Regions from separate parts of the Homo sapiens genome. Here region 2 is linked to region 1. Evidence: fine-mapped expression QTL. A gene starts in region 1. The other region holds a variant in brackets. All regions are shown on one strand. Distances are from middle to middle.

Region 1 (5,371 bases):
GTACCTCCTCCCGAGGCCTAGCACAAGGCTGTGCCCACAGCAAGTTCCTAGGTTCTGCCTGCCGGCCCATTATCAAGTTTAAGGTGACCTTGTTCCCTGAACTACTGACTCGTATCACTTCCTTAGCTGAGAGCTCTGCGTACCTCAAACAACATAACCTGTAAAATGCAAATATGTTACCCAGAAGGGAAAATCTATTAAACACATGTTTAAGGGTCATTAGCCAGCAAGGACCTGGCCTATTGGGATTCAGCCAGGGCAATCTGTTGGAAGAGAAAAGCTGGGGGAAGGCAAGTCCCGATGGGGGGTCCTGGACACCCCGCCTCCACTGGCCCCGGTCCCCAGGTGGCGGGGAGGAGGTGTTCCTGAACAGAGGAGACAGATCTGAAAAGGAGAACGAAGGAAGCCGTTGAAAACACTTGCTCCCTTCTGTCCTGGGAGCTGGTCACCTCTCCATATTTCTCTCCAAGGCACCCTCACCTCCCTCTCGCTGCCTTTTCCCAAGCCTCGCCAGCCCTGTGCCCTGGTTTGCTGGCCGCCTTTGAAGGTTCTGCGGTTAGTGTGTGATCTTCTGTCGCTGCCGGCGCTGAGCAAACAGGAAGCGGGCACATCCTGCGAGGCGGCCAGGGACGCAGCCGCTGCGCAGGCCCGGAAGATTCTGCGACCTGCTTCCTCCCTCACGGCTCTGGCTCCAGGTGCCCCAGGCCACTACAGCGGCGTCCCCAATCCCAGAACCCTCTGGGGCTGCCCTCCTGCTCCTGGTCACGCAGAGCCCCAAAGGCCCGATGGGTCCCCTACACGGCTGCCAGGCTACTGTATATGCCGAAAAGCCTTAACCAGTTACCGCGCTTGCTAGTGACCCTGGGCCGCCTGGGAGGGACTTTCAGGGTGGAAAACACAGGCCAGTGGGAAGGAGATCTGGGGTGTGGAATCTTTTCATGAGTCTGCCTGGCCGACTGAGTAGGCCAAAGAATGTATGGTTTCAGCTTAGGGAAGAAAGATCTTATCTTCCCTGAGCTCACCCTGAAGGTTGGATGGTCAGAGGGCATAAAGCAGAATCGGAGAGGAAGTCACGAGAACATCTTGGGAACAGGGGTGGACAAGCCTAGTATTTCACAAGTACCACAGAATTGAAAGCCTTAAAAATGTGCATACCTTTGACCCCAGCAATTCCTCTTCTGGATATTTCCCCTACAGAAAAAAAACTATGGATGTGAATATTTACCATAAGTATGTTCAATGAATAATTTAAAAATTTAAGCCAACCCAAGTTCATCAGCAAGGGCTTGGTGAAATAAGCACGGCACATCCACACAATGGGATGTTCCACAGCCGTTATAAATTACGTAGTTGAAGACTATTTCATAGCATGAGACAATCTTGATACTGTGTTCAGCTGGACGTAGTGGCTCACGCCTGTAATCCCAGCACTTTGGGAGGATGAGGCAAAGAGGTCACTTGAGACCAGGAGTTCAAGACCAGCCTGGGCAACATGGTGAAACCCTGTCTCTACAAAAAATACAAAAATTAACCAGGGTGGTGGTACGCACCTATAGTCCCAGCTACTTGGGAGGCAGAGGCACAAGAATTGCTTGAACTCAGGAGGTGGAGGTTGCAGTGAGCCGAGATCACGCCACTGCACTCCAGCCTGGGAGACAGAGTGAGAGACTCCATCTCGAAAAAAAAACAAAAAAGATACTGTGTTTAGTGTGAAAAGCAGACACCAATAGTGTGAATTATGACCTTTTTTAATTAAAAAATTTTAAACAGCTTTATTGAGGTATAATGGAGCTACAATAAACTGCACATATTTGAAGTATACAATTTGATACGTTTTGACATGTGTATTCCCCCATGAAATCATCACCACAGTCAAGATAGTGAACATATTCATCACTCCTAAAAGCTTCCTGTTACCCTGTGTGATGTCTCCCTTCCCTTCTCTCCCCTCCCCTTCTCCCCAAACCAATTATCTGTTTTCTGAGCAGTATGATTTTTGTAAAAAGAAAAAAAATGTTTATAGACAGAGAGTAGATAGATGCTTAAAACAGTGTAGAGGACAATGATGGGAAATTTTGAAATTTTTTTTGTTTATGTGTTTGTGAAATTGTATGACAAATACAAGTTGCTTTTGTAATACCAAGAAGTTATTAAAGTTATTAAAATCTGCCACAGACAACCCACAAATTGAATATACTGCATAGGTGTTTGATAAATGCCTGTTGGATACTTGCTAGAGGTGTGGAGTTGGCTGTAAGTGCTTTTCAGCTGTGGTGGTGATAAATATACTCATGATGGCTGAGGGGTACTGACTGGAGGGGTGACTGCTCTAGTGATGATGGCTTTAGGTGTACTGATGGCTGTAGGAGTGATGGCTGCAGGGCTGATGGCTGCACGGATGTGATGATGGTTGTAGGAGAGATGACTGTAGGGACGATGGTTATAGGGGTGAGAGGGTCATGAGTGCGGTTGGCTGTAATGTCCAGAAGGGTGACAGCTGTAAGGATGATGGCTGGAAGGGTGATAGCAGCAATGGTGATGACTGTAGAGGTGATGGCTGAAGGATGTCAACTGTAGAGGTGATTACCATAGTGACAATGGCTATAGGTGTGCTGATGGCAGCGGGGATGGCTGCAGGCCTGATGGCTGTAGGGGTGATGGCTGTATGGTGATGGCTATTGATAGGAGTGATGGTAGCAGTGGTGATGGTCACAGGGGTGATGGTAGTGGTAGTGATGGCAGTGACGACCTTGAAGACGTGAGTTGACCGGGAGCATTGATCCAACAGGCAGCCAGATGGTCCAACTTCTGGTTTCTGGATTCTGGTCAGTGAGATAAAGGGCTTGGGTACGCCATATAATGTCGAGCTGATTGTCCACCTCTAGGAAGATGGAGCAGAAGGACTGATGATGATCGACATGAGACAACAAGGTAGGGACTTTCTCTGACTGTTCAACCCAAGAGCCGTCTGCATCAGAATCTCTGGAGACTGAAGCTTGGACTTCCTTCCTCCCTAGGGGCCGGCAGGGGCTGCGATTGCTGTAAGAGTAGGTCACGTGGCAGGGCTTCCTGTATGCTGCTGCTGCCGGGTGTCCATGGCCCGCACCCCCAAGCTGCCACTGCAGCAGTCAGAGTGGCAGCTGAAGGCTCGGTTCATGCCGTGCCCCCGGGCAGTTCTGGTGAGGCTAAGCAAGAGGCCTCTGCATCTTGACACCTAGGAGAGCAGGGACGGAGTCTCCCAGGGTGGAGGACCATGCTGCGCCGCAAGCCCTCCAATGCCAGTGAGAAGGAGCCCACTCAGAAGAAAAAGGTGAGGAGCATTTTGGGAACTCACATCTTCCTTTCCTCTGCTTGCTCGACCCATCCCTTCCAAGACTCTTGGAAGTGGGAAGAGCCAAAGGCCATATGTTGAGTCTGTAGGTGAGGGCCACTCACCTAGAAGGCAACGGGACAGGGACCCAAAGGTTAACAGAAGTACAGAAGAGATGTTTAAAATTCTGGAGCAACAGAGTTACAGAATAGATCCTTAGAAATCTAGAGTCATGCAATTCAACCCTAGAAGAATGGGAAAAAAGATCTAAAATTAGGGGCCAGAATCTTAGACTAGAATTTGAGAATAACAAAATACAATGCTTAAGCTGAACCCTAAGCTTGTACTTAACTATCTCTCCTCTACGCTGGTCCTGCTGCCACTTCTGCCCCGGCCACGGCCTCTCAGGAGCCATCTCACTCAAAGGGCCCTGCTGGGCTGCCCAGCTTGGAGCCATGATGCTCACAGGACTGCCACCCCCTCCTCCACTTTGGCCATGGCCCAGACCCTGCCCACTTGGCTCAGCTCTGTGGTAGCTCCCAGGCCCTACCCGAGATGGAGCCAACCTGGAGATGGGGGCCTGAGGCCATTCCAGTCTTGGGGGAAAAGGCATCCGGAAGTGCAGTGGGATGCAGGGGGCATACAGGTTCTTCCTGGGTGGGGAATGAGAAATTAAGTTGAGGTGGTGAGTAGGAGTGAAGGCTGAGGAGGGAGGATTTTAAAGGCCAGGAGGAAAAACAGCTGTCATGGATGGCTGAGGTGTTCATCCCCCTGGGGCAGAGACCGGACTGGAAGAATCCTTGAAGGCTGTGCCAGATCTAGGATTTTGTGGTTGAATTTGAGGATTTCCAGATTTCTTTGGTTGGGTTTGAGGATTTCTAGACCTAATTCTTTAATTCAATTGAAGGATTCTCCCAGACAATCAGCAAGTATATCCTACACATCCAATGGGATGCTAGGACAGTCCCAAAGCAGGCCTGAACTAGGTCCAAGAGGCCCAGGCTATCCCCCGCCAATTTTCCCTGGAACTCAGCCCAGGTGCCCTATGGTGGATCCCCCTTGTCAGGGGAGTAGCTCAGAGATGGAGGCCAAGGCAGCTGAAAGACTGAGACTCGGGGCAGTGGGGTGTGCATCCTGCCCCAGCTCTCAGGTCCTGGGGTGGCTGCCACTTCCGGCTGTATTCTCCCCACCCCAGCTGCTTCTCTAAGGTTGCAGTGGTGGTGGGCGGGGGAGGGGGGAGGTTCATGAATCTTCACACGGGCTCTGTCATCCCCGTCCAAACCCTGCAGGGTGCTAGGCCCAGCAGGACTGCCATTGGCTGCCACTCCTAAGAGAGCAGGGCCACTTCCCCTTGCTCTCTGGCTGGTGGGGGTGGGAAACAGAGATTGCTCTATAGACACTGCTAGGCCTCAAACCACAGGGGCGCTGAGCTGGAGGAAAGTGTGAGAAAGAGCTGACACTTTGACACTGGGACCCTGTGCCACATCAGGAAGACGTACCTAGGGGCACACAGAAGCCAGAAGTCCCCTTTTTCTTTCCCAGCTTCAATTACCCAGATTCTGTGTTCGGCAGGCAAGTGGGCCCCTGGGATTTCCCCAGGTCTCTCCCAGGAGAAGGGGTCCTTTCGGGGAGAGTAGTCCAGGCAAACCCCACCCCAACCCCTGCCAGAGCCGGTGCCAGCCTCCAGAGCTGGGATGAGCTTGCCTCCACACACTCTGCTAGCCCCAGACTATGGAAATGTCCCCCAGAAGCCAAGCTTCCAGAAGGTACAGAGCATCTTCCCCAGGCCCAGAGGCAGCGGGCTGGCTGAATCACTGCTAGTCCCTTCTTCTCAGAGGCTGAGATGACGTGGTGGAGAGGAAAGCACAAAGGCAAGAGAGGCCTCTTTCTCCTGCCCCTGCTTCTCCTCTTGGGCCTGCCAATGGAGAATGTGCCAGACAGGGGGCAAGAAAGCTGAGCTGGAATCCTACCACGCTCTAGCTGTAGGACCTTGGACAGCTCATTGACTTTCTTTGGGCCTCAGTTTCCTCGCCTCTGAAAAGGAGGATAACTCCTAATCTG
Region 2 (5,371 bases), 28 kb before region 1:
TATTCAGATAAAGAAAGTCAAAGTTATGTCGGGAAGGGGAAGGGAAAAAAGAAAAACCTTCCTGGGGCTGGAAGGGTTTTGTCACTTCCCAAAAGTGAGGGGATGCCGAGTCATCACCCGCTGCCAGTCTTCAAGAAAAAGGCACCTGGAGCTTGAGTTTGGAAGCCGAAGAACAGAGTTCAGCTTCAATAAGCTTATAAAGACGAGAGAGACTTTCCAGCCACTTGCAGATTTTAAAGGAGAAAGGAGAGTGCAAAGGGCAGAACATGAAAAGTTCGCTACTCAAACATACCTGTACGCACCAGACCATTGAAATTTGGGTTCATTTGGTTTCTCAGAAAGGTATCATATTCCTGAACCTTGAAAACATAATTGCAAGTGAAAGAAGCCAGTCAGAGAAGGCCACATATTGTACAATTCCATTTGTATGAAATATCCAGCACTGGCAAATCCATAGAGACAGAAAATAGATTAGGGATTTCCTGGGGCTCAGGGGAGGGGGGATAGGGAGTGACTCCTTAGTGAGTACAGGGTTTCCTTTGGGGATGAAGAAAATGTTCTAGAATTAGATCGTGGCGATGGTTGCACAACATTGTGAGTATGCTGAAAGCCACTGAATTGTGCACTTTAAAAAGATTAAAATGATATGTTTTATGTTATGTGTAAAATACACATAACATAAATTATGTGTAAAATATGTAGTAAAATAAACCTACAAAAATGTATTGTACCCAAAGCTTTGGTCATTGTTGAATAGTTTTACCTGTTCACATGAAATATTTTTCACGACATTAAGTTATTTATGCTCATATCTGAACCCAACTAGGACCCTTAATGTTTATGGCCTTCGGCCAGCAAACTCCTAGTCCTGCCTAGGGGTAGACTCTTTGAATATCTTGCAGGGGGCAGGGATAGAAGATGAAAACTAAAGTCATAGAACCCAGATATAAGCATCTGAGAAAGGACGGTGCTGTGACACAGAGTTTAAGGACAGATTTGGAGACTGAGAATGTTATCAAGACAGTACGGTGTCTGTACAGATTAAGAGCGTGGGCCATGCAGTCAGACAGACCAGAGTTCAAATCCCAGCTCTACCTCTTGCATCCATGAAACCCTAGACAAGTCACTTTACCTCTCTGAAGCCTCAGTTTCCTTATCTGTAAAATGGGATGGGTAAGAATTAGAACAATGCACATGGAGTGCTTAGCCCAGTACCCGTGGCTTAGTAAATACTGGGGTTACTGCAGAGAAAGTTGAACACGGCCCCAGCCCTACCCCTTTGTCCTTCAACTAGGACTGCTCTCTTGATCTCAGTCTGCATGATTATTTATTAATCAGAAAGATACAAGAGTTACTACATCTCAAGATACCATTCTGTGTGCTTTACAAATATTAATTCATTCCATCCTCATAGCAGCCCTATTGAGGCAGATGCTTATTATACTCCATCCCCATTTTACAAATGTGCAAAATGGAACACAGAGGGGTTAGGTAATTTGCCCAAGGTCACCCATCCAGTAATGGCAAAGCCAGGATTTGAGCCCCATCTGGGTCCAGGGCCCATGTCATTAATGAGTACACAAGTAAGAGTTTGTTTGAGGAAAGGGTTTCGCTGCTTTTTAAGAGGATGCAAAACTGTTACCCTAAGGCTGACCTTCCAGGAACCGAGTGCCAAAGGCAAGGTCTGTCACTTACACTTTTTTGGGGCTCCTTTGCTTCTAGGGAGCACTTGGCAGGAGAAAGTATCTGGCGTCCGAAGCCAGATGCAGAAGCATCAAAAGGTCCCGACTGCCGTCCTTCTGTCGGCGCTTGAGGAGACGGCCTGTGAGTGTGGATTTGCAGACATGGGTGGGCGCCTGGGTCTCCCCAATGCCCCAAGCCTCCCGGGCCCTGCAGCACAGAGCTAGCTCTTCCCCAAATAACCATGTGCCCACCAATTCTTGAGAACTCCATGGCCACAGCCCGTGGGAACCAAGAAGGGTAAGGGGGCAGGAGCTCATGGCTTCAGAAAAAGGACAAAAGGTAGCCCTGAGCAAGCTGGGACCAGCCCACAGGCCACCAGAGGAACGAACTGACTATGGCAGCAAAGTGCTTCTGTCCCACTAAGGGGAGGAGGACCAGGAAATGCCTCCCAACAACTTAGCCACTACCCCAGGGCACTCACACTCCCAGCTTTAGCACCCAGTGGGACTCTACTCTTTCCGACATGGCTCAGGACTTCTTGTCTGATCCCTATGGCTGGGCTTCAGATATTCCAGGGACCCACTGGAACTGTGTGCTGACTGCTAAGTATCTGCATTTTTCTGGGGGGAAAAGATCCATAACTCTCAACAGCATCTCAAAGACGCCCACTCCCCCACCCCCCCCCCCCGGCAAAAAGATTGAGTAACATGCAGAGGTAGATGAT[A/G]CAAGCATGCTGTTGGTAATCTTTGGAGGCCAAAGGAAACAGTGGGGCAAAAGTGTCAGAAATGCTTGCCTCTGGCCGGGTGCGGTGACTCACGCCTGTAATCCCAGCACTTTGGGAGGCCAAGGTGGGCGGATCACCTGAAGTCAGGAGTTCAAGACCAGCCTGACCAACATGTTGAAACGCCGTCTCTACTAAAAATACAAAAATTAGCTGGGCATGGTGGCAGGCATCTGCAAACCCAGCTACCTGGGAGGCTGAGGCAGGAGACTTGCTTGAACCTGCGAGGTGGAGATTGCAGTGAGATCTTGCCACTGCACTCCAGCCTGGGTGACAGAGCAAGATACTGTCAAAAAAGAAAGAAAAGAAAGAAAAAGAAAGAAAGGAAGAAAGAAAGAAAGAAAGAAAGAAAGAAAGAAAGAAAGAAAGAAAGAAAGAAAGAAAGAAAGGAAGGAAGGAAGGAAGGAAGGAAGGAAGGAAGGAAGGAAGGAAGGGAGGAAGGAAAGAAGGAAGGAAGGAAAGGAAAAAAAGAGGAAAAGAAAAGCTTGCCTCAGGCAGATCAGCATTAAATATTCCTTGTCAATTCTCTTCCCAGGGCTCTTCAACCTTCGAGCCAGTGACATCCCCTATAACCCCTTCTTCTATTCCTACACGCTGCTCACAGACTCTTCTATTAGGTATGGCTTTTCCTTAGCTTGCTGTTGTGGACTTTCTCCAACTTCCACCCTCTTGATGCCCCACCACTGATCCCGCCTTAATATACAGCCCTCTGGCTGCCCATCAGCTCGGCGCCTGCTGCAGCACGACCCTTTAGAAAACCCCCTGTTGTCTTTTCCTGACTCTTTAAACCTCTGTCCCTATTGAATCCCAAATCTGGCCTGCTTGGCTCCCTGGGGCTGGCTTCCTTTGACCTCCAGGAACAGAGGGACTGTGACTGCCTCTGGTCCTTTGCATCCTTAGCAGATGCTCAGGACCCTCCTTGTCTTCCCACCCCACCCAGGTTGTTTGCAAACAAGAGTCGCTTTAGCTCCGAAACCTTGAGCTATCTGAACTCCAGTTGCACAGGCCCCATGTGTGTGCAAATCGAGGATTACAGCCAAGTTCGTGACAGCATCCAGGCCTACTCATTGGGAGATGTGAGGATCTGGATTGGGACCAGCTATACCATGTATGGGATCTATGAAATGATACCCAAGGTGGGTTTGCCAGGCCCCAGCCCAAGCCAGGCACCAATCCCCACTCTAGGCCTGAGAAGTCTTAACCTAAAGTGAGGTGAAGCCCCTCAGCCATTCAGTCATCTGGTCAGCCAACAACTGTGCAGTGAGTTCCCTTCTTGGCCTAACTGGGAAGAGCCAGAAGAGGAAACAGGGATGGCCATCCAGAGAGCTCATAAAATTGTCAGGAGGCTGGAGAGTATACGGCCTGATCTAGCAGAGACTTTGGAGTCAGCCAAACTTGAAAATGAATTCCAGCTCTGTCCCTAACTAGCTGTGCAGTGACTTTGGACAAGCAACTTAGCCAATCTGGGTCTTTTTCTTCACCTATAAAATGGCAATAAGAGTCCTGACCTCGCAGGAGTCGCTCAGTGGAGATCTAAAGGAGATAGTGTATATGACTGACACATGGTAGTGTCCAATAAATGGTAGCTGTCATGATATGTACAGGAAACTTACACTGTCAGGACAGCCTGTCGAGTGACTCAGGCCAGACTCTGATCCATCCCAGAGTGCTGGTGGGATCCGAAGACAGGGAGTTCATTGCCAAGCAAGGCAGTGTCAATCAAGGAAGCCTTCCTGGAAGGAGAGAGGGTTCAGCTGGACGTGGAAAACTAGGAAAGACAGAAAGCACACACAGAGTAGAGAGCATTGCCACGAAATGGTGGCAAATCTCACGTCTGCTGGGTCCTCCTGCCAGTCCTCTGAAAACACCCCTGTGCCATGGAGACCTCCTTTACTGTGCCCCCAGACCTGTGCCCCCAGACCTCCTTTTCTCCTCCCTGCCCCCAACAGGAGAAACTCGTGACAGACACCTACTCCCCAGTGATGATGACCAAGGCAGTGAAGAACAGCAAGGAGCAGGCCCTCCTCAAGGCCAGCCACGTAAGTCCACGTTCAGGCAGACATGGCCTTTTGGGAGTATCCAGCCTAATGAGTTAGAAAGGAAAGGCCTCCAGAAGAGCCTGAAGAAGACCCTCAATGAAACAAAGAAGCAAGCTGGGCGCGGTGGCTCACGCCTGTAATCCTAGCACTTTGGGAGGCCAAGGTGAGAGGATTGCTTGAGCTCAGGAGTCCGAGAGCAGCCTGGCCAACATGGTGAAGCCCTGTCTCTACTAAAAATACAAAAATTAGCCAGGCGTGGTGGCGATCACCTGTAGTCCCAGCTACTCAGGAGGCTGAGGCACGAGAATCGCTTGAACCTGGGAAGTAGAGGTTGCAATGAGCTGAGATCATGCCACTGCACTCCAGCCTGGGCGAGACTAGGTCAAAAAAAAAGAAAGAAAGAAAGAAAAAGAAATAAAGAAGCAGACACCAAATTATTCCTGGGCGCCCACATGCACCTCATATCCTTGCCCCCAATATAGTACAGTGGTTTAGAGCACAGGCCCTGGAGCTAGGGTGCCTTGAGTTCAAACCACAGCTCCACCCAATTCCTAACTGGGTGACCTTGACCAAGTCATTTTACCTCTCTGGGCCTCAGTTACCCCATCTGTAAAATGAGGATCATAACAGTAATCTTACAGCATATGGTTGTTGTGAGAATTCAATGAATATGTATATTGCTCTGAGCACCACCTAGCACATTCTAAGTGTTAAATAAGTGTTAGCTATAATGATTTCCTCACACTGGCAAGAGGATGGCTCAATTTTTAAAAAAGAATTCTTGTTAAAATTAAGATAAACCACCTCATTTAAAAAAAACTTTGTCTCATAGGAAATTTTAAACACACACAAAGATAAAGAAAATAGC

Direction of the effects. Positions count from the first base shown, and alleles are read on the strand shown. Sizes are in standard deviations (SD) of each study's normalised expression.
With allele G in place of A in region 2, the expression in whole blood of the gene that starts at base 3,105 in region 1 is higher (small effect, 0.09 SD a copy in GTEx).

The links. PIP is the estimated chance that this variant, and not a neighbour inherited with it, causes the effect.
Region 2: its variant is the best candidate, but not a certain one, in a credible set for the expression of SASH3 in whole blood (GTEx, PIP 0.67).

What each region holds. Positions count from the first base shown.
Region 1 is chrX:129,776,845-129,782,215 of GRCh38, forward strand. SASH3 (SAM and SH3 domain containing 3) reads left to right here and starts at 3,105. Exons shown (of 8, transcript NM_018990.4): 1 at 3,105-3,310. The coding sequence starts at 3,254. LOC124905215 (a long non-coding RNA gene) reads right to left here. Exons shown (of 2, transcript XR_007068328.1): 2 at 1,731-3,435. RefSeq lists enhancers at 2,856-3,015, 3,266-3,345, 3,396-3,455, 4,723-4,902, 5,013-5,062 and 1 more.
Region 2 is chrX:129,748,746-129,754,116 of GRCh38, forward strand. It overlaps XPNPEP2 (X-prolyl aminopeptidase 2), which reads left to right. Exons shown (of 21, transcript NM_003399.6): 8 at 1,723-1,824; 9 at 3,000-3,081; 10 at 3,405-3,600; 11 at 4,414-4,503. Among named protein-coding and RNA genes, the nearest start is that of XPNPEP2, 12 kb to the left of the region's middle. The variant A/G (reference allele first, on the strand shown) is at 2,408.